4 linked regions of the Homo sapiens genome follow. The protein of the gene in region 3 interacts with the protein of the main gene of each other region in a pairwise test. Each region holds a gene or a part of one and is shown on either strand. Other genes may lie near its edges.

Region 1 (7,379 bases), on a different chromosome or scaffold from region 3:
GAGGAGGGGCCCAGGCCTGCGAGACGGGGCGCGTTCCTGTCCCCAGACCCCTCCGGCTGCGCCTCAACCCCCAGCCCGGCTCTCTGACCTGCATCGGTCGGGCCGGGCACAGAGGAGGCAAAGCAGGCGGAGGCCGCGAGAGGAGAGCAGCCTGACCTCCCGCCTGAGCCCGGACCCTTCCCCTCGGGCACCCTCGGACGCCCCCGCCCCAGCGTGTTACTTTCTAGATGGGGAAACTGAGGCGCGGCCAGGGCGATGCGGCGGAAGTCCCGCGCCCGGCCGTCTCCCGCGCCTGCCAGACAGAGCCCCGAGAAGAGGGCATAGAATTCCCTCCTCTAATTGTGTCCCAGAACTCTGGGACGACGGAGGCCAAGCTGCTGAGGGAGGGGACGAGGACGCGGGGCCCCAGGGACCAACCCCTCCGCTCCCCGGCCAGCCGCGGCCGCCCAGCCTCGGTGCCCCGGCGCAAACAAGCGCGGTGTTTGCCGAGCGCGAGGCGGGCGGCGCGGCCCGAGAGCGATGAGGATTCGATGGAGCCGCTCGCCGCGGCGGGGGCAACGGAGCCCGGGCGGGCGCGGGGATCGATCGGGCACAGCTGTCGCCTAAGAGCCCGCGGGAGCATCCACCCGCGGGCCAGAGCTGCCCGGGCGCCCCGCAACTGCGGGCAGGAAATCCGGGACGTCGGGCCCGCCAGGGGCGAAACCCCAAAGTCGCGACACCCGGGGTGGGGAGGTCAGGACGTCCCCACGGCCAACGTGGAACCTTCGGGAGCCGCGCGCTCAGCCTCGCCGGGACCCCCGCCAGGCCGTAAAAGCCCAGAGTCTCCCCCCAAATCTAAATAAAATCCCCAGACCCCGCCCGAACGAAGGCGGCTGGAGTCCAGAGGGAGAACTCCTGCCACACACTAGGCACCGGCGGCCGGGATTTGGGGCGCCCGCAGGTTTCGGGGGCCGGGAGTGGGAGCAGAGCGGATCTAGGGCTGCGGCTGGGCTTGGGTGGGGCGCGCATTCATTGCCATCGTTTAGTAAAACCTCGCTTTAATAAAAGCAGGGAGGGGTGCGCAGAGCCCGGACACTTTCATTTCGGTGGGAGACAAATCGAATCAGAAAGTCAGTTGGGGGCGCACTGTGCAGGGTTCTGGGGGAGCCCCAGGAAAGGAAAACTTGAGGTATCTGACTCTGCCTTTGATATTTTTAGCTGCAATGGGAGAGTCAATAACAACAGGGAAGGTGGTGTGTCCAAAAATGGGGGAGGTGTGGAGGATTAAAGAGGGGGTTCAAGCTTAGGGGGTCCGTTTAGGGAGTTTGAAGCCGTGGAGAGTGCGCACCCCTGGGGCATGGGTGGAGGCCCCCAGTCCTCCCCTCCACCCGCGGGACTCTCCAAGCCCTGAGGTTGGCAGGACCAGAGGCTGCCCTTTTTGACTCCTCCCAGACGCAGGCCAGGCACAGAGAGGGTGAGCGTTGGTCTGGGGCAGCCCAGCACCTGCTGAGGTCCCCCTCCCCAACTCCCAGACACAGACTCGGGCTCTGGGAGTCAAACTTTCATCTTCCTGGAGGGGATACTGAGGCCAGAGAGCTTCCTCGAGGTGGCTGAGGTCCCTGTGGGGTGGGGAAGGGGGACTTCTTGTCCCGATCCAGCCCACCCCTCCCCCTGCCCACAATTTGCCTAATGACCCAGGATCGATCTGGGCCTGGGCAGCCAGCCTACCCGGTGGCCGGCTCAATTCTATTTTACTAATTACTAAAAGGCTGCTGCTGGTGGGGAGAAGCAAGCTGGGGGCTCCAGGGGGCCACAGTCCCTCTCTTGGGGCCAGCAAAATTCTGTTCAATCTCTCAACGGGACCACAGCCTCTACAAGGAGTGAGATCCCCATCCCTGGGGGAGTCCAAGTGTCCATCAGCCGAAGGGAGGGGTGAGGGGCTTCGCAGACCTGGATAGGGTTAGGTCCACCAGGCTGGGCTGCCCCTTCCAAGTCTAGGGAGCTTTGGAAGGGGTCTGTGGCCACCTTAGCGTGTCCTGAGGCAGCAGAGGGGAGAGGCCCTCTTCCTCTCGGAGTCCCTGACCCTCGTCTTCTCTTTCAAAATGGATGCTTTCCCTGCTAGAAAAGCCACACACGCTTGCTATTAAAATGAACACGATCATCAAGCTGTAAAAAATATATTTAAAAGGAAGCCTGCAAAATCCCAGCTCCCTAGGAGCTCCCCCACATTGGCATTTGGGGGAACTTCCTTCCACCTTGTTATCCTCCCACCCGTAGAGACCCCCAGCCCCCACCTGGTCTGCGCTTCTTGAGCCTGGGATGCTAGCGTTTTATGGCGGCTGATTGATTTTTAGATCTCACGATTATTTTTAATTATCTGTGATTGTTGGAGGGTGAGAATGAGGAGCGCAGGCTGGGGCTCTGTGCAGCCACATCCCCCCCGCCGAGATTCAGCATCTGCACGGGGAGTGGGGTACGCGACTGTTCGGACCTGCCCCTCTCTTCCCACCTGGAAGATGGGTGTAATTATGTAAACTCCAGAAATTATACCTGAACCCTGGAACTGGAAAGTTTAGGGACCGACACTTCAGGGGGCAGGAGTTAGCACTTGGGCAGATGTAGGAATGAAGGGGGGAACTCTAGGGCCACCACCCCCCCACCTTGGGCCAGAGACACCCGGAAAAATTGTGATTTGACTTCCCCCTCTCTGGGGCTGAGAGAGGAGAGTATGCCTGGTAAATAACAGGCACTTACTAAATGCCGAGCCCTAAGCAGCGAGTACTAACAGGGGTCCCCTTCAGCCCTATCCCTCCCCAGGACTTGGATCAGGCCACCTCAGGCTGGGGGCCCAGATCATTCAGGCCCCCTCTCTCTCTGGCTGTTGTGGTCAGCATAGACTCACCTCCGGCTCCCAGCTGGGCAGGCTGGAGGGCACCCCCTCCCACACCAGAGAAGGGGAAACTGAGGCACAGAAAGGGCCCTATTCCAGAGCCAACCTAGTCTTGGTTCAGAAAATCGCATCTCCAATGTGTAGCCACGTCTACAGGGGCCAGGAAATCTGGATGCAGGTGCAAAGCTGGGGCCGGGGTTTGCCCAGAAGGTTTGCACCAAAGGGGAAGTGACAGCCTGACTGTGTCCTCCCCTCTTCCTTCAGCTTTGAGCCCTGATGCAACCCTCTGAGATGGGGGTAACTGGGGGCTCCCGCGAACCGACTGCCTGACCCATCCCCTTCCTCTTCTAGAAAGTGCACAAGCGTTACCCCGGGGGTGGGGGGGGCAGAGGCAACGGGGAAGCAGGAAGGGGCTGAGGCTGGTTTTGGACTCTGCACCGTAGCCTCTGGCCTACAAGACAGAGCATCCTCTAGATTCTGGTCTGGCCCCTCCAGATCCGCAGCCCTGACCTTACCCCACTGGCGGGATCTAGTCCCCTGGGGGTCTCTCTGATTATAGGAGCCCTTCCCCCATCTATCCCAGTTCCCAGGGGCCCCTGGGGCTCACCTGTCTCCAGGTGCTGAGAAAAAGGAGACCCCTGCCTCCCCCCACATTGAAGAGAAGCCCCAGGGACAAAGAGGAGTTTGCACCAGCGACGTCTCAGAAGACAGGGGATCCAGCCTCAGCCTCCGTGGGCTGGAGGGTGACAGGGGCTCTTAGTGGTCACCCCCAGGCTCCAGTGCCTCCAGCGGCCGCACTGTAAAAAGGCCCTGCAATTAGAAGGGGCCTTTGGCAACCCCGAGGCCGGGCAGCCCATTGTACAGTTGGGGAAACGGAGGCCCAGGTGCCCACACATGGGCAGAGGCTGACCCCTGGGGCGCACGGAGGCCCTGACCTAGCCTTAGGACCTCCCTTTTCCCCCACTTCCTCCACAAAGAGGTTGTGGGAAGGGGGCTGTGACTCCGTAGGTGTGAGTGGGAGTCGGGGGAAGCTGAGCTTGCAGTGGGGATCTAGCTCCTGGGGGTCTGTAGGGAACGGGGGGGGGGGGGGACACGTACATTACAGGCGACCGTCCAGCCACACTCCCAGAAACTCCCTGGAGATGGACTTGGGGGTGCCAGGCAGAAAGCCACATCTGGGACTCTGGAGAGAATCACACAGAGACGCGAAATCGGAGACTCTGGGTCGAGGCCCCCAGCCCCACCTGGGCAGAGTCTGTCCTCGGACCCCCGCCCGCTGTCCCCCGGGTACGGCCTGCCCCAGCGGGCGCGGGCGGGCGCAGTGGCCAGGGACGCCGAAGCCCCAAGTCTGGCCGACTTCGGCCTGCTTGGTGCTCGAGTGGGGCCGGGGCGGGCGGAGAGCGAGGCTGCGGGAGGCAGCGGTGGCAGGAGCGGGTGGGCGGGGGCGCTGACGTCAGACCCGGGCCCGGGCGCCGGCGGCCGCTCCCCTGCCACATCCTGGTGGCCGCGCTCGCAGCCGGGCCGGGCCGTGCGCCGCGCAGCCTGGCAGCCTCGCGCGCAGCCACCGGGGAGCGGGCGGGAGTCATGCAGCGGCCTTGAGCACTAGGGGCCGGCGCTGAGGAGCGCGCGCGGCGGGAGGGCAGCCGAGCATGGAGCTGAGCCTGGAGAGCCTGGGGGGCCTGCACAGCGTGGCCCACGCGCAGGCGGGCGAGCTGCTGAGCCCGGGCCACGCGCGCTCGGCGGCGGCGCAGCACCGCGGCCTGGTGGCGCCCGGGCGCCCGGGCCTGGTGGCCGGCATGGCGAGCCTGCTGGACGGCGGCGGCGGCGGCGGCGGTGGGGGCGCCGGGGGCGCGGGCGGCGCGGGCAGCGCGGGCGGCGGCGCGGACTTCCGCGGGGAACTGGCGGGCCCGCTGCACCCGGCAATGGGCATGGCCTGCGAGGCGCCGGGCCTGGGCGGCACCTACACGACGCTCACGCCCCTGCAGCACCTGCCGCCGCTCGCGGCCGTGGCCGACAAGTTCCACCAGCACGCGGCGGCCGCGGCCGTGGCCGGGGCGCACGGCGGCCATCCCCACGCGCACCCGCACCCGGCGGCCGCGCCGCCCCCGCCACCCCCGCCGCAGCGTCTGGCGGCCAGCGTGAGCGGCAGCTTCACCCTCATGCGCGACGAGCGGGCGGCGCTCGCCTCCGTGGGCCACCTCTACGGACCCTACGGCAAGGAGCTGCCCGCCATGGGGTCGCCGCTGTCGCCGCTGCCCAACGCGCTGCCGCCCGCGCTGCACGGCGCCCCGCAGCCCCCGCCGCCGCCACCACCCCCGCCGCTGGCCGCCTACGGCCCGCCAGGCCACCTGGCTGGGGACAAGCTGCTGCCGCCCGCCGCCTTCGAGCCGCACGCCGCGCTGCTGGGACGCGCGGAGGACGCACTGGCCCGCGGGCTGCCCGGAGGCGGCGGCGGCACAGGCAGCGGCGGAGCGGGCAGCGGGAGCGCCGCGGGGCTGCTGGCGCCGCTGGGCGGGCTGGCGGCGGCCGGGGCGCACGGGCCGCACGGGGGAGGCGGCGGCCCCGGCGGGAGCGGCGGCGGCCCCAGCGCGGGCGCAGCGGCCGAGGAGATCAACACCAAGGAGGTGGCGCAGCGCATCACGGCGGAGCTGAAGCGCTACAGCATCCCGCAGGCAATCTTCGCGCAGCGGATCCTGTGTCGCTCTCAGGGCACGCTCTCCGACCTGCTGCGCAACCCCAAGCCGTGGAGCAAGCTCAAATCCGGCCGCGAGACCTTCCGCAGGATGTGGAAGTGGCTGCAGGAGCCAGAGTTCCAGCGCATGTCGGCGCTGCGCTTGGCAGGTAGGAGCGTGGCGCGCAGGGCCAGACCCTGGGGGCGCCGGCTCTGGACTCCCGAGCACCTAGCGGGGCGGCGGCCGATGCCCGGGGCCAGCGCCCCAAGCCCCGCCCGTGCGCCCCGGCAGCCCGGGACCCCCTATCAGGAAGCTAGACCGCGATCCGCGCCGCTGCCCGTTTGTACCGTTGCCAAAAGGGAGAAAGGGATTGTGCCGCCTCCCCGCCCCCCGGTCGCCGCTTCTGCCCCTTTCGGGAGCGCGTAGGGGTTCTCTAGTCCTTGTTAGACTGCTGGGAGGCTCCGAGCCTCTCCCCAAGCAGCCCTCAGGGAAGCTCATTGTGTGTGTGCGTGTGTGTGTGTGAGCGCGCGCCTGTTGGGGGGAGCTGTGTCCCCGAACGAGCTGCTGTTGTCGGCTAAGGTGCCACTCCCCTCCTCCAGAGTGGGTGGAGAGGGGCTGTTGAGCCCCCAGCCCCGGGCCACAGAGCTCCGAGACGTTGCGGCGGGCGCCTGCAGCTCAGCAGCAGAGGCCGAGCCCGCGCTCATCCCCCCACCTGCCCCAGCGCGCGCTTCTTTGTAGTTCGGCCCCGCGATCGATACCCCCTCCCTCTCCCCTCCGGCCGCTGGCAAAGGTCACCCGAGAATGGCGGGGGAGGGGCGGCCCCGGGGACCCTCGGCCCGCGCCGCCCGGAGGCCTTCACACCCCGACCCGGCGCCCGCCCCGCGCAGTTTGGTCGTGGCTCGGGTGCGCGCGCCCCTGCCCGCCTGGCTTTGGGGTTTTGTGTCTCTCATGTCCACTTCTCTCCTCTCTCGGTCGGAACACACTGGTATCTCTATGTTTTTCTCTTGCTCTCCGTTTTGCTCTTGTTCCTGCTCATTATCTCTTCTCCCTGTCGGTCTCTCCGCCTCTGTCTCTGTCTCATACTCAGCCACCGGCCCCCTGGGGACCCTCCTCCCTCCTCCCTCCCAGCTGACAACAGCTAAGTCCACACCTGCCCTCTGACAGGCAGCCCGGCCAGGCCCCCATTTCCTAGGTGGGGGTGTAAGGGTGCAGGAGGGCCCCTGGCCTAGGTGGGGGTTTCTTTCCCTGGTGGTGCTGGGGAGGGGGCTGTCCACCCGGGCCACAGGGACAATAGCCGCGGCGGCTGGCGCCTGATCGATCGCTTCTCCGAGCACAAGGGCGAGAAAGGCGGGGGCTCTGGGAGGCGCCCCACTAGCAAAGAGGCAGAGGGGCTTGCGGCTGTGCCCCCAGGCAGCCCGTCCAGGCAGGGGGGCTGGGCGAAGAGAGGACAGCGGGGTGTCCTGTGCTGTTCCTCCCTAGAAAGCCATTCCCTCCCTCCACCCCAGGAGGACCAGACAACCCCCTGGGAGCCTGGACCCACAGGCCGGCCTCAGTTTCCCCCTTCTGCAGAGCAAGCAAGGTGACTAGCTGGAACCTCTTATGGGATTCTTAGATTTTTCTGCTTTGGGGCACGGGAAAATAAATAGTCTTTCGCGTGTGGCAGGGTAACCTTGTGCTCAGGGAGGTCCGGGAACCTGGACGATTTCAGTCTGTCCTGCTCCCCTCCCCATGACACATACAGCGGCACTCGTGCGCTCACCATAGACCGGCGGTCATATCCGCACACAGCCACGGCCCTCGAGGTGCAGTGCGAGGCCTCAGGTGGCAGAGGGCACACC
Region 2 (8,011 bases), on a different chromosome or scaffold from region 3:
ATCTTCCAAGCAGCAGCATGCAATGTTCATTTCTTTCCTTCTCCTTCCAAATTTGACACACTGATACATCTGCACTACTCGCACTAATTTGTGCACTGTCTTGTTTCATCCCATTGTTTTACTGCTTCGGTAGAAGGTCCCTTCACTTAGAAAACAATTTCCTACCCCTGAGCACCAAGAGGAAAGAGTCCAAGGAACTAAGTCTGTGTAGGTTCAGTGGTTTGCAGATTCATGCTTTGGGAACTCTTTATTCAAATGAAATCTCTCTTGGAACCGTGATATAAACAAAACAGACAAAGTCATTTTATTAGCATTCCTTTATTTTAGAAGTTCACACCTATAATTTTATAACAATCGTGAAAATGTTACTCAGAACTAGATGTTTTGATGACACATAGCAGAAATCTGTGGTTCAAGATGGTCATTGCAAACTTAACCAATCTCAGCATTCTATTCTGCCTTTTGTTTTGATTGCACAGAATCAATATAATTCTGATTCATATGGAAAATAACTTAATATCTTAACCTCCGCTCAGGATCTTCATCATAAATGTAGGTCAGTACATACCTAAAAATTGTCAATGATCCAACATGGTCACATGTGACATGCTACACTTGCACCTAGTACCAAACAAGCTGATACTTCAATGAGATCTGGTTGGCATATACACCCAAGCCTTGTCTGTCCCCTCAGAGCACTGCACACAGATAGTGAAAGAACTTGTGTACAATAAGAAATTCACAGGGATGAGGCTGGGCGCAGTGTCTCACGCCTGTAATCCCAGCACTTTCAGAGGCCGAAGCAGGTGGATCACTTGAGGTCAGGAGTTCGAAACTAGCCTGGCCAACATGGTGAAACCCCGTCTCTACTGATAATGCAAAACTTAGCTGGGCGTGGTGGCACATGCCTGTAGTCCCAGCTACTCGGGCAACTGAGGCAGGAGAATAGCTTAAACCTGGAAGGCGGAGGATGCAGTGAGCCAAGATCACGCCACTGCACTCCAGCCTGGGTGACAGAGCGAGACTCTGTCTCAACAACAACAACAAAGATATTCACAAGGATGAATTTAAATAGGTAAATGGCAGTGTAGAACTACATCCTTCCTAGTCAATTACACCTTTAGGAGACTTTAAATAGGCACAGAAACGACAAAGGGCTTATACTGAGAATTGCACAAAAATGAGTTACTTGGCAGCACAAGGTAGGGATTGTATGTGTCACAAGAGTATATAGACTGTTCTACCTTCATGCTCTACTCATTGCCATATCCCTTCGTGGTTCCCTGAGACTCAGGTGAAATTACCTTCCAATATTGCCTGGAGAAGGGCCTCCTCCTCCTCAGCTGCCTCATAATCCTTTATTAGTACCAATAACTGCAAGAAACCAGGGGCTGGGCCATCCTCTGGCAGATTAAGCTCTCTGCGAATTGTTTTGTGGACTGCCCCAGCAATGACTTGGTCTAGGCGGGCCTGATTCACAGCATCTCTCTCAATTGCTCCTCTCTGTACCAGCTTCTGTAACAAAGGCTCCAGCCTTAGTACATAAGCCGACAACTTTTCCTCATCCTTCTGGTAAGTGGTTAGATATTTGACCTGCAACTCCCTAGGATTATCTGTAACCCCAAATACCTCCTCAAGAGCCTGCAGACATTCATCGACAGTAATTAAAGGATTGTTTATCTTGAGGACACGAATAACATCAAGTGCTGGGCCTCGAAGGCTCTCTAGCAATCGCCTTCTCTTCTCTACATCTGGCACCTGCCACGCCTTTATCATCTGAGTAGTATGAAACATCCAGCGTCCAAATTCTTCTTCTCCTGGTTCTGGAGACTCCCTGCCCGAGAACACTCTCAGCTTTTTATACTTCAAGCATTGCAGGGCAGGCTGAAGAGCCTCTAATGCCTGTGCCAACATAGGGGCCCACATTTCCGGGATCATGCCCTGCTCTGGGTCTAAGGAGCCATTTTCATGTCCAAGAGCTCTGCTCAACTCACCCACTGTCATGCCCTCTCCCGCTAAAAATTCATTTAATCTGCTTAAAAATGTATTATCTGGGTCAGGGGGCTTAAAGATCACTCTCCAGATACCCCCTTTTCCCGGTATCTCCTTAGGGACCAGGGCGTGACTAGTCTCCGCAGTAAGCCCTACTAAGGCTACTTTCCTGTTCTCATCCCTCCTGAACATCCTTCCAAGCAGTCTGTACTCCCCCAAGGGAGCTAAACCAGCCTGCAGAGCCTCCTCGATTTCTGCCACACTGCAGCTCTGGGAGATGCCGGCAATCAATAGCGCTTTCCGAGGGTTCATGTCCATCCCCCTGCACCAGTCTTCTAAAAGCCTCAAAGTCATGGTGCCCGAAATAATAGACTTAAGTTCTAAATATGCCAGACCACAGGCGACCACCGAAATTCAAAGTAATCCTCCGCGGTACCCCAGAGAAATCTTGTCAACGTGCCGAGGTCCAGCAGCCTGCAAGACAGAGCAGACAGGTTAGCTAAAGGTGCCAACGTCCAGGGCAAGCGTGCAGGCCCCAAGCCCCGCGCGCCCTGCCCCCAGCGGCGACGCCAGGGCAGCCGCACTGCGGCGCGCGCCCCTCACCCCTCCCAGCCCTGGTGCCTGGCGGATGTCGGGCCTGCAGGGCCGCGTCGGGCCCGCTTCCACTCACCGTGATCTAGTGCTCGTGCCCGCGTCCGTGCGCCGGCGGCCAAGGTGCCTGGCCGGGCCCCGACGAGGCGCGGGAGGGCAGGCTCCCCTAGGCTCTGACGGACACTCGGGGGCCACAGCGACCGATGCCGGTACTCCAGGTGCCTGTGGTACTGTCTGCAACGAGAAGTGATGGGGCGATGACAGTCGCGAGCGGGCACCAGGGGGCAAGGCTGAGGAGCGCTGAGTCGCCAGACCCAGAGAGCCACCCACCTGGAGGGACGTGCCGCCACCCGCGCCGCCGGAGCTCCGGCTCCAGCCCGGATTCCACCTGTTTTGGTCTCGCTCGGGGAAGCTGCGCGGCGGGCGGGGGCGATCTGACGTCATGAGGGGCGGGCCTCGGGGGCGGGGCGCGCGCGCTTCCGGCCCGAGCCGGAAGCTCCGACTGCGGCGGCATCCGGGACGGCGGGCGGGCTGGCCACCACGGGACAGGAAGGTGAGATCCGGGACCTCAGCTTTGCAAGCAGGCTCCGCCGGCGACCGCTGACGGGCGCTGGGCTCGCGGCGCTGCAAGGCGGCGAGGCCCGGGCCTGGCGCCGCCTGCGCAGCCTTGGTCGCGGCGTGCCGGCGCTGCAGCGCGGCAGGGGGCGGGGCCGGCCGCCCGGAGGCCCAAGTGGCGGGGACGCCTCCCTGCCGGGTCAGGTTCTCAGAGCGGGTCTCCGGCGGCGGCGACGGGGGCCGGGCCGCGCGTGACCCGCCGCAGTCACGCCGTTCTTAATCACTAGTAGCTGGTGCTCCAGGCTGGCGGCGCTCACCTTTCTCCTAGCCGGGTGACCCAGGGGATTTATTTTATGTTGGCTTTCTCTGAAATGCCAAAGCCACCCGATTATTCAGAGCTGAGTGACTCTTTAACGCTTGCCGTGGGAACAGGAAGATTTTCGGGACCATTGTAAGTGCTTAGGAGTTACTGTCTTAACTTGGGGGCTTGACTTGTAGCACCCCGCGTTCACGTCTGAAGCAGTACTGTTATGCCAGAAAGTGTTTCACCTGTCAAAGTGAAATGTGCTGTGAGAAACTAGTTTAATTCCAGTTTCTGGAGGGCGGGTATTATGGACCTGTTTAAGTAGGATGCAGTGATTTATTCTGAGGGATTCCCGTTAAAAAGCAGAACTCAGTATATACTGAAATCAATGGTTTTTTGTTTTTTTGTGTGTGTTGTTTTACTTGATTGTAAGTATTACACAAAACAACCTGTAAGTTTTACATTTCTTAATAGGTGTTTAATTTAATTATTTTAAATCTTAAGTGTGTTAGTGGGATATTTTAGAATTCTTTTTTTTTTTTTTTAATTAGACAGAGTCTCGCTCTGTCGCCCAGGCTGGAGTGCAGTGGCGTGATCTCGGCTCTCTGCAAGCTCTGCCTCCTGGGTTCACGCCATTCTCCTGCCTCAGCCTCCCGAGTAGCTGGGACTACAGGTGCCCGCCACCACGCCCGGCTATTTTTTTTGTATTTTTAGTAGAGACGGGATTTCACCATGTTAGCCAGGATGGTCTCTATCACCTGACCTCGTGATCCACCCGCCTCAGCCTCCCAAAGTGCTGGGATTACAGGCGCGAGCCACCGCGCCCGGCCTAGAATTCTTGGAGATAAAGCAAGTACATTTGGAGTAGTTGCCGTGACAGCATTACTAGACCCTAATTGTATTTTCTTTTTTAATTTGAAGGCACAGAGCATGGAGAATGATGAACTTCCGTCAGCGGATGGGATGGATTGGAGTGGGATTGTATCTGTTAGCCAGTGCAGCAGCATTTTACTATGTTTTTGAAATCAGTGAGACTTACAACAGGCTGGCCTTGGAACACATTCAACAGCACCCTGAGGAGCCCCTTGAAGGAACCACATGGACACACTCCTTGAAAGCTCAATTACTCTCCTTGCCTTTTTGGGTGTGGACAGTTATTTTTCTGGTACCTTACTTACAGATGTTTTTGTTCCTATACTCTTGTACAAGAGCTGATCCCAAAACAGTGGGCTACTGTATCATCCCTATATGCTTGGCAGTTATTTGCAATCGCCACCAGGCATTTGTCAAGGCTTCTAATCAGATCAGCAGACTACAACTGATTGACACGTAAAATCAGTCACCGTTTTTTCCCTACGATTACAAAACTGCCAGTCCTATATGGAGTCTGATCACAAGACTGCAGTTTCTTCACAGATCTCAGGAAGTTGTCGTGGGGCAGAGGCTTTTTAAAAACATGTGATTAGGGAGCTATCTTTATCTGAATAATAACGAATTTTTAGGTAAAACCTGAGATAGAGTACTACAAAATCATGTTGATGACTTCAGATTTTGGAAGTTAAATCATGTCTGTTATTTGCATTCTTTAGAAACTTGACTAAGTACCTGAATTCATATTTCTATTCTACTGTGCAACATAGTGATGATTCAGAAATTTTTCCTTTGGGGAAAAAAATGAATATGAACATTTCCATTGTGTTAAGTGTAAAAAGGTCCAGACATGATCATAAAATTTAAATTTTATACAATTACTTGGCTTGCTTTAAAATTCTTCACACTTAAAACACCGATTCATTCTATTGCAGCTAAGCCAGCTGTCTAGACTTGCTGTCAGCTTATGAGGCATTGCTAAAAAATTATTGAGGAAATGGCTGTCTTGATAAGCAGAATTTGTTCTTCCTCTTGGTAATGGCTAAATTATTATTAATGCTTTTAATGGTTTTATTTTTTATATTTTTCTTTTTTGTGGAGAATGGGGTCTCGCTATGTTGCCCAGGCAGGTCTCGAACTCCTGGGCTCAAGCTTTCCTCCTCTCTCTGGCTCCCTAAGTGCTAGGATTACAGGTGTGAGCTACCATGCCCAGCTATTTTTAATTAAAAAAATTTTTTTTTTCCATGACTTGTGACACAGTCTCAGAAGGCCCTGAGAACGTACGCTCCAATGCTACTGATTTAGAAAACTATCTGGGAAGAAACTAAGTGTTAAATGTTGAAAGGCTAGAAATAACTTACAAATAGAAGATGGAAACAATGTGTTCAATGAAAATCTAGCAGGTTATTTATTATTTATTTAAATTATTATTATTATTTTTGAGACGGAGCCTTGCTTTGTCACCCAGGATGGAGTGCAGTGGTGCAGTCTTGGCTCACTGGAACCTTCGGCTCACTGCAACCTCCACCTCTCGGGTTTAAGCGATTCTCTTGCCTCAGCCTCCTGAGTAGCTGGGATTACAGGTGACCACCACCATGCCTGGCTGATTTTTGTTATTTTAGTAGAGACAGGGTTGCAGCATGTTGGCCAGGCTGGTCTCAAACTCCTCACCTAACTAAGGTAATCCACTTGCGTCAGCCTCCCAAAGGCCTGGGATTACAGGCATGAGCCACCATGCCTAGCTGTATTTATTTATGTTATTTATTTTGAGATGGAGTCTTGCTCTGTAGCCCAGACTGGTGTGCAGAAGTGCGATCTCAGCTCACTGCAACCTCCACCTCCCAGGTTCATGCTATTCTCCTGCCTCAGACTCCCGAGTAGCTGGGATTACAGGCACCCACCACCATGCCTGGCTAATTTTTGTATTTTTAGTAGAGACGGGGTTTCACCATGTTGTCCAGGCTGGTCCCGAACTCCTGACCTCAAGTGATACACCTCAGCCTCCCAAAGTACTAGGATAACAGGCATGAGCCACCATGGCCAGCCTATAGCAGGTAATTTAGTCCAGTCCTTATCAGATGCATGAGACCCCTCTAAAAGATGCTATCAAGTCATAATCTTTCTGATTTTCTTTTCTGGCCCAAGGTCAGGTCATCAGGCAGTAGGTTAATTACATGAAGATGTGTTCCTGTACCTTCTCCTTTGCATTTGTACTACCTCACATCTGGTACTAATACAAATAACTAAAACATGGACACAGTAGCATTTCTTTTCTGCATGAGATCAAGATATATTTTTATACAGTTATGTCATTAATACTGGAAAACATTTTATGCTTTTAATAATCAACACTTTTTGATGCTTATTCTGTTGGGCCCTATTCTAAGAGCTTTATGGAAATTAACTAATGTAATCCTCCCAACAACCCTATAAGATGGGTATTATTATCCAGATTTCACAGATAAGGAAACTGAGGCAGAGAAGTCAAGTAACTTGCCAAAGGTCACAGCGAGTAGCAGAGCCAGGGTTATAACCAGGCATTCTAACGCCATCGTTACTAACCACAGAGGCATAGCGCTTCTCACAAATGACAAATGTTTTAGCACTGGGTACTCTTTGCCCAGTCATGCCAAAGAATGGAAATGGCAATAGTATTGACAAGTTTTTCTCTATTTGTCTACTAGAAATCTGAAAGTTTCCTAGCAACCTCATCTTTCCACTACATCTGACTGAACCCGAAAGGAAGGCTGAGTATTCCATAGCAAGCTGTTACTTAAAAGATAAAGCAGGTACCTTTGTGATGTAAAAGTAGCAGATCAGATCCTTCAGATCAATTAGTCTCATTTATCTCACTGCCTCCAAAGGTCTAGTTACTGAAATGATATATCTTTTGATATAACACGTGGAATCCTCAAAGTAAGCAGCAGTTTGAAATACTTGTTTTTGTGAGGGTCAGATGACCAAATCACTTGCATCTTTTAAGTATTCAGTATGCATGTTACAGACATTGTTTATGAGTGATTTACATTTATTCTTCACAACAGTCCTGGGAGGCAGGTATTATACTGCTACTAGTGTCATTTTACAGAAGAAACCTGAAACACGTAGGAATAACTTGTCCATAGTCACATAGCCAGTATGTGAAAGAGCCGATTTGAACCTAGGATGTTGGCTTCAGATCTCCAGCTTTTTATCATTCTATACTGCTTCTCAAAAAGGAGAGTAATTTGAGGGAAATCATTGAGAGTTGCCAGTTTTATTAGTCTTGAGGCAGTGATTTAAGAAAATTATTTCAGTTTTGTTTTGTTTTATAAATGCTTTATGTAGGCTGGGAGTGGTGGCATCTGTAATCCTAGCACTTTGGGAGGCAGAGATGGGAGGATAGCCTGAGCCCAGGAGTTCATGACCAGCCTGGGCAACATGGCGAGACCCCATTTCTATTAAAAAGGGGTGGCTCATGCTACTCCCAGCACTTTGGGAGTCTGAGGTGGGCAGATCACTTGAAGCCAGGAGTTCAAGACCAGCCTGGCCAACGTGGTGAAACCCTGTCTCTACTAAAAATAGAAAAATTAGCCACGGCTGGTGGTGCATGCCTGTAATCCCAGCTACTCAGGAGGCTGAGGGAGGAGAATCGCTTGAACCCAGGAGGGAGAGTGGCAGTGAGCCAAGATCGCATGGGCCACAAGAGCAAGATTCCAT
Region 3 (7,023 bases):
CCCAGGTCTGACACCCCATTCCAGACTGTCTTTCCTCCAAAGTAATGAGAAAAGCACTGGACAAGAAAATACAGCCCAGGTTCTGTTTACCTCTGACACTGGCTAGCTATGGGATTCTGGAAAAGTCACCCTAGCCCAAGTCTCATCATCTCTCATCTAGACCACTGCCTACTAACTGGTCTCCCCACATCATCTCTGGCCTCCCTCCAATGTGGTTTGCATACAAAAATGTGACCCATCACTCCTCTAAATAAAGATCAAATTTCTAAAGCAACCCATGAGGCTCTGCTTGATCTAGCCGTTAACAAATTCTCTCACCTCAATTCTATCACCTTGTCTCTCTTGAATTATTTTCTCCCTCCCTTCCAGTTACACCGACCGGCCTTCTCTCAGTTCCTCAGAAGCATGATGATTTCCTTGTTTGGAAAGGCTTTTCTGTAGCCACTCTCTCTGCTTCTCCTCCTCTTCCCTTCACCAAATTAACTCCTTATCATCTTTCAGGTTTCAGCTCAAGGGTTACTACTGCCTTGTCTAGAAGCTTTCCCAGGGCTCCAGACCAGGTTGGGTCTCCCCTTTTTTTTTTTTTTTTTTAGACGGAGTCCCGATCTGTTGTACAGGCTGGAGTGCAATGGCCTGATCTTGGCTCACTGCAACCTCTGCCTCCCAGGGACAAGTGATTCTCCCACCTCAGCCTCCCGAGTAGCTAGGACTACAGGCACGCACCACCACGCCCAGCTATTTTTTGTAGTTTTAGTAGAGATAGGGTTTCAGTATGTTGCCCAGGCTGGTCTTGAACTCCTGGCTTCAAATGATCCACCCACCTCAGTCTTCCAAAGTGCTGGGATTACAGGTGTGAGCCACCGCACCCAGCTGGGTCTCATTTTTAATATACTTGTTTAAAGAACTACCCTTTCTGGCCGGGCACGGTGGCTCACACCTGTAATCCCAGCACTTTGGCAGGCTGAGGTGGGCGGATCACGAGGTCAGGAGATCGAGACCATCCTGGCGAACACGGTGAAACCCTGTCTCTACTAAAAATACAAAAAAATTAGCCGGGCGTGGTGGCGGGTGCCTGTAGTCCCAACTACTCTGGAGGCTGGAGCAGGAGAATGGCATGAACCCGGGGGGCGGAGCTTACAGTGAGAGGAGATCGCACCACTACTGCACTCCAGCCTGGGTGACAGAGCGAGACTCCGTCTCAAAAAAAAAAAAAAAAAAAAGAACTACTCCTTTCTTCTGAGCACTTAGTCCATTAATAATTGTATTCATTGATGAGATTATTTAATTGTCTCCCTGCTCCAGTAGACTGTAAGCTCAGGGGAGAACTGGATCTGTGTCTATTCTTAATTATCACGGATGTCTTCACACTCAGCCCAGTACTTAGCACAGAGAAGGTACTAAAAAGATAATTTCACAGTACCTGAAACCTCGTGAGCACTGTGTAAGTATGTGTTGAATCTGAGTTGTCTTCACAGGATTCTTTTAAGGGTGAAATGAGTTCGAGTGTAATGACCATGAAAGTGCTTTGAAGTCTGGAAAGTACTGTCTAAATGGAAGATTTCACTGTAACTTCACAGTCATTGGTTTAAAACCTTGCTAACGTTTCTGGAAGTCTAAAGAAATCACTTTCCTGTGCACATGTTTCTTTCCCATCTTAGAGATTACTTCAGACTGGAGTGATTTGGAAGCAGGAGAGCCTGAGTTCAAATATCATCTCTTTCTTTACTGTCTGGGTGATCGTAGGCACCAAGCTCTTCCTCACTCAGAGCTCTCACATATATGGTTCCTTCTGCCTGGGATGCTCTTTTCTCTCTCATACGTGGCTGGCTTTTGATCATCCTTCAGGTGTCTGCTTAAACTGGCCAGGCATGGTGACTCCCACCTGTAATTTCAGCACTTCGGGAAGTCGAAATGGGAGGATCTCTTGAGCCCAGGAATTCAAGATCAGCCTGGGCAACCTAGCAAGACCTCATCTCTTAAAACAAAAAAATTAGGCGGTCATGGTGGCATGCACTTATAGTAGTCCCAGCTACTTGGGAGACTGAGGTGGGAGGATTGCTTGAGCCCAGCAGGTGGAGGCTGCAGTGAGCTAGGATTTTGGTTACTGTGTTCTGTTCATTTCCTTCACAGCACTCATGTTTTGTCTATTTATTGTATGCCTACTTCACTTGATTTTAAGCTTCTTGGAGTCAGGGATCATGTCTTAGTGTGCATTGAGCATCATGCATTGTGATAGAGACTCAATCAATTAGGTGAATATATGTTTGGTTGAATGAATGAATGAAGTTGCCTCCTCTTCAAATTCCTCATCTGATGATTATTTCACAGGGTTGTTAGCAGACTTAGACCACCGATGCAAAGGGACTAGCACAATGTTGGGCAAATAACAGGTCTTCAATAAATACAGATTCCCTTTTCTTCCCCTGGGCACCTCACAGCCACAACCTTTGACTCAGCTGTGACTGCTGTATGCTGCATTCCTTCACTTTCATCACCAAGTCCTGCAAAATCTTCTCCCATAATATCTCCCAGATCTGCCGTTAACCCAGTGTAAGCCTGTTGCCTCACCCTTCAGACAAGTACCACTGGTCTGTAAGTGGCTGTCCTTTCCCAATTCCATACACTAGTAAAATCACCCTAAGGGATAGTATCACTTCCTTTATGTCTCCACCACCTCCACTTCACCCTATGCCTCTCCAGGTAGGCACTGTCCATAAGAGGCAGGCCTGAACTTACGCACTCACTGGTCACAAGCTTAGTTCTGACTGTAATCTCATGGGCTAGTAGTAGCCCATTCTTCTCACCGTACTCTCTCTCTCTAGCCTCACAGTTTATTCTCCCAAGTATGCCTTTTCCTTTAGGACTGATGCTTGTTTAGATGCTGGTTCAGCTGGGCCTTGGAGTCTTCATTCTTTGGCATTGCCTCCTTGAGTGAGAACTGGATGTTGAAAATTTTAAATTTCCAATATTTGTCAATGCCCTGTCCCATTTTTTTCCCATCTAAACAATCTTAGTTAAGAGTCATTTGCTTCTTCAAATGTGAGAGGACTTCAGCCTAAACCTCATATTTTATAGACAAAGCCTGGAGGGAAGATGTGACTTGCCATGTTCACATGAGCCAGGATCAGGGACTAGGCCTCGTGCTCCTAATCTAGTAGTTTCCCATTTTAGTTTGCACTTTGACCTTCCATCAGGCAAAGTTACTTCCTTCTTCTTGTAGACTGCTTCCTCTTCATCTCTTTTCCTTTAATTCAGTGATGTAGGGTTACAACTAGAATAAAAGCATGCTTACATATGAACTAGGTCTGACAGGAAGGACACAGAGGAGCAGAGGGTTGGCTTATGAGGGGTTCGTGTCCTTACCTCTTAACCCTTTGTTGATGCCATTTCTGCTGCAGCACCTATCACACCAATGCTTCGCCCCCAGAGCACGCCTCCTACCCTGCAGCACACTGACGTAGTGGCTTTCTATTCTGTTCTGACAAATTTCCCCAGGAGTCAAGCAGGTAGGCAGGCCTCTGTATATATAAAGATGATATGTAATACACAAAAAGCTTTAAGTGTCAAGAGTATCTAAATATTAGCAATAAATGTGGCTTTCCTTTCTCTTACCTTCCACATTACTTAGTAACCGTGTGTTGTCCATTTTACTTCCTGTCTCTTTTTGATCTCCTCCTCTTTAGTTCACTGTCTTGTTTCAGGCTCTTAAGCGTGCTTGTCCGAACTATTTCAGACATCTTCCAGTGAATCTTCTACCTTTATTCCTCCCCTCTGGTCCCTCCTCCACATTGGTTCCAGAGGATCTTTCTAAATTTAAATCTGATTCTCTCGCCCTTTTTGAAAATCCTCTAGTTTTTATCCACATGCATCAAGTTCCTTGGTATAACTCACTAAGCCCTCCATGACCTGCCCCCTGCCTACCACCATAGCCTCATTTTCTGCCATTCTGTCTTTCACAATTTGTGCTCCAGCATCACAGGCCGATACAGTCCCTACACCCTCCATATTTGTAGGTTCTGCATCTGCCCATTCAAGCAACCATGGGTCAAAAATATTTTTAAAAATAATACAATGATTAAAAATGATACAAATAAAAACAATACGGCCGGGTGCGGTGGCTCACGCCTGTAATCCCAGCACTTTGGGAGGCCGAGGCGGGCGGATCACAAGGTCAGGAGATCGAGACCATCCCGGCTAAAACGGTGAAACCCCGTCTCTACTAAAAATACAAAAAATTAGCCGGGCGTAGTGGCGGGCGCCTGTAGTCCCAGCTACTTGGGAGGCTGAGGCAGGAGAATGGCGTGAACCTGGGAGGCGGAGCTTGCAGTGAGCCGAGATCCCGCCACTGCACTCCAGCCTGGGCGACAGAGCAAGACTCCGTCTCAAAAAAACAAAACAAAACAAAACAATACATGATGTTACTTGTGGGCTTATAAACAAAAAAAGAAAAAATGTAAACAAAAAAGACAAAAATGATATAGTAGAACAACTATTTACATAGCATTTACTTTGTATTAGGTATTATAAGTAATTTAGAGATGATTTAAAGCATAGGGAATGATGTGCATAGGTTATATGCAAATACTACACTACTTTATATTAGAGCCTTGAGCATCCTTATATTTAGGTATCTGATGGGGGTTCTGGAACCAGTTCCCTGCAGCTGTGACTCTATATAGTTCTATGAACATAACATATTATTTCATATTTCTATGACATTGCACATGCTGTTACTTCTGCCTGGGATGCTCTCCCTGCCTTATCTACCTGGAAAACTTCTATTCATCCTCAAAACCCAGCTCAGACTCTGCTTCAGTGTCCCTCTCCATCTCATCTATAGAATTAAACATTTCCTATCCTCTGACACTTCCAAAGCTTGTGTTGCTATTGCAATTATACTATATTGTAAATATATTTGTTTTCATGTTGCACTTTGATTCCCCATCACCCAACACAAGGCCTGGCACAGAAAGGGTATTAAATATGCATATATATATTTCACAATTGAGATATAATTCACATATCATAAAATTTACCCTTTTAAAGAACAATTAAGGCCAGACACAGTGTCTCACGCCTGTATTCCCAGCACTTTGGGAGGTCGAGGTGGGTGGATCACCTGATGTCAGGGGTTTGAGACCAGCCTGGCAAACATGGTGAAACCCTGTCTCTACTAAAAATACAAAATTAGTGGGGCGTGGTGGTGCATGCTTGCAGTCCCAGCTACTTGGAAGGCTGAGGCATGAGAATCACTTGAACCTGAAGGCAGAGGTTGTAGTGAGCCGAGATCGCGCCACTACACTCCAGTCTGGGCAACAAAGTGAGACTCCCTCAAAAAAACAACAACAACAACAAAAAAAGGACAATCCAGTGGTTGGTTTTAGCACATTCTGAAGGTTGTGCAACAATCACCATGATCTATTTCCACAACATTTTCATCACCCCTAAAAGAAAGCCTGTAATTGTCAGCAGTTACTCCCTCTTAGTGCCTCCCTTGCATTGGACCCCCTGTTAGTGCCTCCCTTGCATTGGACTCCCCCTGTCGCCTGGCCACCACTAGTCTACTTTCCGTCTCTATGGATTTGCCTATTCTGGACATTTCATATAAATGGAATCATACAATATGTGGCCTTTGGTGTCTGGTTTCTTTCACTTAGTATAGTGTTTTCAAAGTTCATCCACATTATAGCAGGTAGCACTACTTCATTCCTTCTTATGACTGAGTAATATTCCACTCATGGAGATGGAGATGGAGATGGAGATGGAGATGCCTCCTTTTGTTCATCCACTCATCAGCTGATGGACATTTACATTGTTTCTGTTTTTTTTTTTTTTACTCTTCCAAATAGGCTGCTGTGAACATTCCTGTATGAGTTTTTCTGTGTCAATAAATACTTGAGTCAATGAATACATGAGTGAATGGGTAATGACTCATATTTCCTCATGTGTTCTTTGGCCTGGATATGAATTATAACCTTCTTTTCTGCTTTTGGGCAGGTCTGGGCCGAATCGTTCAGGCTGAAGAATATCTATTCCAAGCCCAGTGGACAGTCCTCAAATCAACTGACTGTAGTAATGCCACCCACTCTTTACTGCATCGGAATCTGGGACTTCTCTATATAGCTAAGAAAAACTATGAAGAGGCCCGTTATCATCTGGCCAATGATGTAAACAAGCTAAGTTATAACACCTGTATATTTCCAAAATCTAAATTATAACACCTGTATATTTCCAAAATCTGTTTAATTTTTTTAAAACTGTGCATTTCTCTAAAACTTTCTGTTTACAACTGATTATTTGGTGGGATGTTAGCCATAACACAATTCTACCGACCCGAGTTCAAGCATTTCTACTTCATAGCTATTCAACCTTGGCCAGGTCACATATTCCTGAAGTTTCAGTTGCCCTGAAGAGTAAAGGGAGGCAAAACAGCATACTCGTTAAGAGAAGGGCTTTGCTGGCCGGGCATGGTGGCTCATGCCTGTAATCCCAGCACTTTGGGAGGCCAAGGTGGGTGGATCACGAGGTCAGGAGATTGAGACCGTCCTGGCCAACATGGTGAAACCCCGTCCCTACTAAAATACAAAAAATTAGCCAGGCGTGGTGGTGCATGCCTGTAGTCCGAGATACTCGGAAGGCTGAGGCAGGGGAATCACCTGAACCCGGGAGGTGGAGGTTGCAGTGAGCCGAGATCGCGCCACTGCACTCCAGCCTGGCGACAGAGCAAGACTTCGTCTCAAAAAAAAAAAAAGAGAGAGAGAGAAGGGCTTTGCTTCTAGTCACAGATCTGTTTCACTAGCCACATCGTCTTGGAAAATTTGTTTAACCTCTTTCATCACCTGCAAGACAGGAATAATAAAATAGTCTCTGTCTCACTGGGTCATTGCGAAGATTAATAATAGGACAATAAATGTATAGTACCTTGGCTATTATTTTAAAAAATAACAGTAATATCTCTACTTCAGAGTGTTGGTTATTAAATTTAAAAGAGCTAGATGTATAAGAAAGCACTTATCGATGATA
Region 4 (6,452 bases), on a different chromosome or scaffold from region 3:
ACTGGGATTACAGGCACATTTTTGTATTTTTAGTAGAGACAGGGTTTCACTATGTTGGCCAGGCTGGTCCCGAACTCTTGGCCTCAGGTGATCCACCCACCTCGGCCTCCCAAAGTGCTAGGATTACAAGCACGAGCCACCACACCCAGCCTGAATACAGTATTTTTAAAAATCAAAATTAACAGAAATAATCCACAATGAATAAAATACAAACATTTTCAATGAAGACAGGATCTGTAACTGTGCCCTGTGGAGTCATATTGGAGCAAAAGGAAAATCAATGATACTGACCCTGCAGGCTACTTGCATTAGCTCACTGTCCTCCTAACTTCTGGGCTAAACAACCCAGCTAAAGCCCACTAGAGGGGGGCTGCTCCCCAACCTTTGCTAGCCCCCTCCTGCTGGCAACTGCTGATCCTGGGACCAGTGATGGGCAGGTCCACCTTTGCCCTCAAATGGTTCTGAACTAGGTCATTGCAGTCCTTTAAATAAATTAACCAAAACCATAATAATAACAACAGAAACATTTATTAAGAGCTAAGCGTTTTACAAATATTAATTCACTTAATACTCACATCAATCTTATAAAGTAAGTGCTCTTGTTATTTCCTTTTACAGGTGACCAAACTGAGGCATGGGGGTTTAATAAGCTTACCCAAAACTACACAGCAAGGAGGAGGCTGTGTCGGGAATCAAACTCAGTCACTGTGGCCCCCAAGTCCATGCTCATAACCACCAGGTAAAAAATGTGCCTCCTATTCTAATTTCTGTCTGACAGTGGGCCCAGTCATGGTTTCAATACAGCTCAGCAGAGCAATGCAGCAAATCCAGGTGGCAACACTAAAATACTCAGAAAAGACCAACCAAGCAACCAAAGCATAACATCAGCAATAGCACAACCAATGTGAATCATGAGAACCCTCTGTCTTTATTAAATTTGGGGGAAGAAATCAAGGTCACGAAATCAAGTGACTGGTGATGGGGCCTAGAAATGAGTGTCTCCCCCCACCCCCGGTTTCCGCTCTGGCAGGCGGGTGTTAGCGGATGGTGTACTTGTCCCACTTCTTCTCGGGGTCATAGGCCTCCCAGCGGCTGGCGGGGAAGATGTGCTTGTTCTTCTCGTACCAGCTGCGCAGCACCACCTTGCCCGCGTGCGACTCGTCCTTCTCCATGGTGGCGTCGCTGAGCAGGCGCACGTCATCGTGCACATCGAAGCTGAAGAGCGGCCCGCTCTTGCCCCTCGCCCTGGCGATGATGAAGTCGTAGAAGGTGTGGTAGTGCGGCAGGATGAGGTCCTCCTTGATGAACATGAGCTGCTCCACGCCGGCGGAGCGCAGCTCCAGGAAGTCCTTGCGCAGCCCCTGCAGCGCCTTCTTCAGGAACTGCTGCACCGTGTTGCCCTTGCGCACCCGCACCGTGCGCCGGTGGCCCGAGCCGTCCCAGTAGCTGAAGGTGACCTCCATCTCCTCGTCCTTCACTTTCTCGCGCTGCGCCTCCCACTCTTGGCGCAGCTCCTCTCGGAGCCGGTTCTCCTCCTCCTCGCGGTCGCGGTCTGGCAGGAAGCTGGTGTCCACGTCGGGGTTCTTGCCCAGGTTTCCGGCGCGCCTGGCCTCGGCCGCGTCGGCCTGGTCATCGAGGTCGTCTAGTGCAAAGGACAGGCAGGAGATCTTACGCTTGCGCTCGCGCCGCTGCTCCTGCTCCCGCTGCCGCTCCTGCTGCAGCCGCTGCTCCTCCAGGTGCTGGCGCTTGGCCAGCTGCCGCTCGCGCTCCCTGACCAGGGCCTCCTGCCGGGCCTTCATGTCGTTCAGGGTCACCAGGCCCACCGTGCTGGACTTCAGCTCGGCCTCCACGGCGTCGTAATGCGCCGAGAACCTCTTGTCCACCTGCGACTTGAGGATGGTCTCCTCGGCGATGCGCTGCTTCAGCACCTCCATCTGCTCCCGCTGCCTTTCGCGCTTCTTGAGGAGGTGCATGGCACGGCCTGCCTCGCGCATGGTGCCCTTGTACTGCGCCATGGCCCGCGCCTACCCGATGGGCTCTGCAGCAAAGAGGAAAAACGCGGCAGGTAGAGGGGGGCCCACGCAACGGCGGGGAATGCTCAGCTCTGCGCCTCCTCACAGGGCTTTCGGCAGTGATGGAAGCGTTCAGGGGCTGGGCCGACCTGCTAGGGTAACCACCAACCTGACAGTGTCACCAGGCACCAATTTCCAGCATTTTATTTGACCTCAATAAATGCAAATGCGAACGGCCCCACGTAACGGGTGGCTGCCATGCCTGAGCGCAGCGCTGAATTTGGGGAGCTGCATACAGAGAGGGTTGGGCTACTGAGCGGACCCTTACCTGCCCAAGCACCCTGTCGAGCGGAGACACGCGGGAGCTGACCTCCACGAGAACCACCCACGAGCAGAGGCCCACTCGCCCCGGGCTCTCGCGACAGCCGTGGACACAGGAAGTGGAGGCGGTGCGCCCCCTGGCGGGGAGGCGGGCCCTGAGGAGAGTGCCAGGCTCCTGGTAGGGCGGCTGCGGAAACAGGAAGTGGAGGTGGATCGCCCCCTGGCGGGGAGGCGGGCCCTGGGAAGAGCTCCGGGCTCCTGGTAGGGGCGGTGCTCCTGTGGGGCGGGCCAGCGCGGGGAGGATCCTGGAGGAGGCGCTTCTGGCCCTGCCCAGCCGTGGCTGGCCGGGGCTCCTGTTTTCACGCTGTGGGCAGGGCGGGCCCCCACCTGCTGTGCGTGCGTGCTGAGCCTTCTCGTGCCCAACTGTAAACACGCAGAAGCAATGTGGGCGCAGCGCAAGCTGCTGTGGCCACCCAGAGAGCCTTGCAACACGGCCCTGCTCTCCAACCCTCCTCCTCCCGCCTCTGATGCTACCCCGCTGTGGCGTCTCGTGAACATTACCTGCGCACCACTGCCTGTAATTCTTTCTTATGGCCCCAACACAACCATTCTTTGATAATAGAACCCTACTCGCCCCCCAGTTTCGTGACAAAACCTGCACTCAGCTTGTTTGACCTCTTCTATACAGCAGTTTCCCCCGGGTTCTAAGCTCTAATAACCATGGGACACTGAGTTAAAGTGTAGCAGTGTCTTTACTGTGAGCCTCTAACATGCCAGTTTCCACTGTAACTCTCCAAGAGCAGGGCAGACCAGTTCATGTTTCGTGACCGTTTCTCCCCTGCAGGAGATCTGGTAACACTCGCCGAAACCAGTGCTTCCTGGGACCTAGTTTGGAAAAGCTGGTTGTGAAATACATACTGCGGTTCAGCCTCCTCCCGCCTAAGAGCAACAATGCCTGTGAGCATAACCTTACCAAGAAGCGTGAATCATATGATAATTACATATGGCACCCACATATCCAGAGGAGAACAGCACGGTGTGAGCCCTCATCAAATTGTCCAAGCCAGAAACCTAGGCCTTTTCCTGGAATGACGTTCCTCCACAGGTAATCAATTACAGAAGAGCCTTTCACACTTTCCTTTTTCTCCCATTCCCCACCACTTGCCTTAATCTAGGAAATTAGCATTTTTTTTAATCTAAAGCCTTCTCATTGTTGCCCCATCACCAGAATACAAGAATATCTTATTTTATTGAGCTCTGGGATACTGTGTGTTTTGTTTTTGTTTTTACAAATTGAAGATTTGTGGCAACACAGCGTCAAGCGCCTACTGGCTCCATTTTTCCAGCAGCATGTGCTCACTTCGTGTTCCTGTGTCACATTTTGGTAATTCTTGCAATATTTCAGACTTTTTCATTGTGATATCTGCTATGGTGATCTGTGATCATCGTTCTGTGAGGTTATTGTAATTGTTTGGGGGCACTCCGAAGTGTGCAGTAGAAGACAAAGACGTTTATTGATTTAACTGATAAATGTTATGTATGTTCTGACTGCTCCACTGACTGGCTGTTCCTTCATCTCTCTTCCTGTCCCTAGGCTTCCCTAGTGCCTGAGACACAGCAATATTGAAATTAGGCCAATTAATAACCCTACAATGGCCTCTAAGTGTTCAAGTGAAAAGAAGTGTCACACGTCTCTCACTTTAAATCAAAGGCTAGAAATGATTCAGCTCAGTGAGGAAAGTATGTCAAAAGCCAGGATAGGCCAAAAGCTAGGCCTCTTTTGCCAAACAGTTAGCTAAGTTGTGAATGCAAAGGAAAAAAATCTTGAATGAAACTGAAAGCGCTTTCCTGGTAAACATATGAATGATAAGAAAGCAAAACAGCCTTATTGCTTATATGGAGAAAGTTCTAGTGGTCTGGATAGAAGATCAAACCAGCCACGACATTCCCTTAAACCAAAGCCTAATCCAGGGCAAGGCCCTAAGTCTCTTCAATTCTGTGAAGCTGAGAGAGGTGAGGAAGCTTCAGAAGAAAAGTCTGAAGGTAGCAGAGGTTGGTTCATGAGGCTGAGGAAGGAAGTCACCTCTATAACATAAAGTGCAAGGTGAAGCAGCAAGTGTGATGGAGAAGCTGCAGCAGGTTATCCAGAAGATCTAGCTAAGAGCACTGATGACGGAGGCTACCCTAAACAATACATTTTCAATGTAGACAAAATAGCCTTCTATTGGAAGAAGATGCCATTTAGGACTTTTATATCTAGAGAGGAGAAGTCAATGCCTGGCTTCATGGCTTCAAAGGACAGGTTGACTCTCTTGCTAGGGGCTAGTGTAGCTGGAGACTTTCAGTTGAAGCCAATGCTCACTTACCATTCTGAAAATCTTAGTGCCCTTAAAAATTATGCTAAATCTACTGTGCCTGTGCTCTGTAAATGGAACAACAAAACCTGGAGGACAGCACATCTGTTTACAGCATGGTTTACTGAATATTTTTAAGCCCAGTGTTGAGACTTACTGCTCTGATTATTCCTTTCAAGATATTATTACTCATTAACAATGCACTTGGTCACCTAAGAGCTTGATGGAGATGCTCAAGGAGATTAAAGTTGATTTCATGCTTGCTAACACAACATCCATTCTGCAACCCATAGATCAAGGAGTAATTTTGACTTTTAAGTCTTATTATTTAAGAAATACATTTCCAAAGGTTATAGCTGCTGTATGTAATGATTTCTCTGATGGATCTGGGCAAAGTAAATTGAAATTTTTCTGGAAGGCATTCACCACTGTAGGTGCCATGAAGGACATTCACAGTTTTTGGGAGGAGGTAAAATATCAACATTAACAGAAGTTTGGAAGAAGTTGATTCAAACAGCATTACATGTTACAAAGAAATCTTTCGTGAAAGGTAGAATCAATCAATGTGACAAACTCAATATTGATTTAAGAAACTGCCACAGGCCCAGCCTTTGGCAACCACCACCCTGATCAGTCAGCAACCATCAACACTGAGGCAAGACCCTCCACCAGCAAATAGAGCACAGCTCACTGAATGCTCAGAGGATCATTAGCATTATTTAGCAATTAAGTATTTTTAATGAAATTATGCACATTATTTTCTTAGACAAAATGCTACTGCACACTTACTAGACTATAGTATAGTATAAACATAACTTTTATATGCACTAGAAAATTTAAAAATTTGTGTGACTGTCTTTGTGGTGGTCTGGAACTGAACCCACAGTATCTCCGAGGTATGCCTGTATTCTTGTTCTTGTCTAACTTCTATACAATATCCTCAGAGATCTTCATAAAAAATGAATCTGATAACATTACTCTCCTACTTGAAAAACTCCAACTTCCCTTGTAACAGCCACATCAGAATCTCTTTGTTTGTCCTCTAAGGTCTCTAATAGGTGGACCCCTGCAGCATTCACCCAGCTTTTTCACTGCGCCTGAATAGAAGATGCCCTTTCAGGCCAGGCGCAGTGGCTCACACCTGTAATCCCAGCACTTTGGGAGGCCGAGGCGGGTGGATCACGAGGTCAAGAGATCGAGACCATCCTGGCCAACATGGTGAAACCCCGTCTCTAATAAAAATAAAAATAAAAAAAATTAGCTGGGTGTGGTGGTGCATGCCTTGTAGTCCCAGCTGCTCGGGAGGCTGAGGCAGAAGAATTGCTTCAACCCAGGAGATGGAGGTTGCAGTGAGCCAAGATCGCACCACTGCACTCCAGCCTGGTGACCCAGAAAGACTTCATCTAAAAAAAAAGTTGCCCTTTCATAACTGTTACCTCTGGACGTACTCTTTCTAGAAAGTCCTGCCCTTCGCTGTGCTATCCCTGAAGATCAGCACAAATGTCATCTCCAAGAGGAAGCCTGGAGCACCCACCATCACCATCACCACCCACAGATGGACAAAATTACCAATAGTCTCCTCTCTCAGGTTTCCCATATAATTACCTTTATTACACTTAACATAAATAAGATAGCCTCTCCACCTCTTTTTTTCAGTTAAATGATCCAACCAACTAAACTTTAATTCAATCGACTATCGTTTGGCCACAAATACTATATTCACTCTTTCTCTAATCGAATCAGAACTTGAATGTCAATATCATCC

Evidence for each region.
Region 1: the proteins of ZMYND12 (region 3) and ONECUT3 interact in binary tests that used the Homo sapiens proteins (3 or more experiments, as listed by UniProt).
Region 2: the proteins of ZMYND12 (region 3) and MOAP1 interact in binary tests that used the Homo sapiens proteins (3 or more experiments, as listed by UniProt).
Region 4: the proteins of ZMYND12 (region 3) and FAM50B interact in binary tests that used the Homo sapiens proteins (3 or more experiments, as listed by UniProt).

What each region holds. Positions count from the first base shown.
Region 1 is NC_000019.10:1,749,145-1,756,523, forward strand, and holds the start of ONECUT3 (one cut domain family member 3), read left to right. Parts: upstream 1-4,361; 5' UTR 4,362-4,518; coding exon 4,519-5,710; intron 5,711-7,379. UniProt on the Homo sapiens protein: Transcriptional activator. Binds the consensus DNA sequence 5'-DHWATTGAYTWWD-3' on a variety of gene promoters such as those of HNF3B and TTR.
Region 2 is NC_000014.9:93,181,897-93,189,907, forward strand, and holds MOAP1 (modulator of apoptosis 1), read right to left. Parts: upstream 3,002-8,011; 5' UTR 2,914-3,001; intron 2,818-2,913; 5' UTR 2,663-2,817; intron 2,467-2,662; 5' UTR 2,347-2,466; coding exon 1,291-2,346; 3' UTR 303-1,290; downstream 1-302. Other genes in the region: LYSET (lysosomal enzyme trafficking factor), read left to right, coding at 3,510-3,589, 4,364-4,775.
Region 3 is NC_000001.11:42,439,000-42,446,022, reverse strand, and holds part of ZMYND12 (zinc finger MYND domain-containing protein 12), read left to right. Parts: intron 1-5,997; coding exon 5,998-6,167; intron 6,168-7,023. UniProt on the Homo sapiens protein: Required for sperm flagellum function and male fertility.
Region 4 is NC_000006.12:3,845,375-3,851,826, reverse strand, and holds FAM50B (protein FAM50B), read right to left. Parts: upstream 2,455-6,452; 5' UTR 2,341-2,454; intron 2,039-2,340; 5' UTR 2,016-2,038; coding exon 1,038-2,015; 3' UTR 510-1,037; downstream 1-509.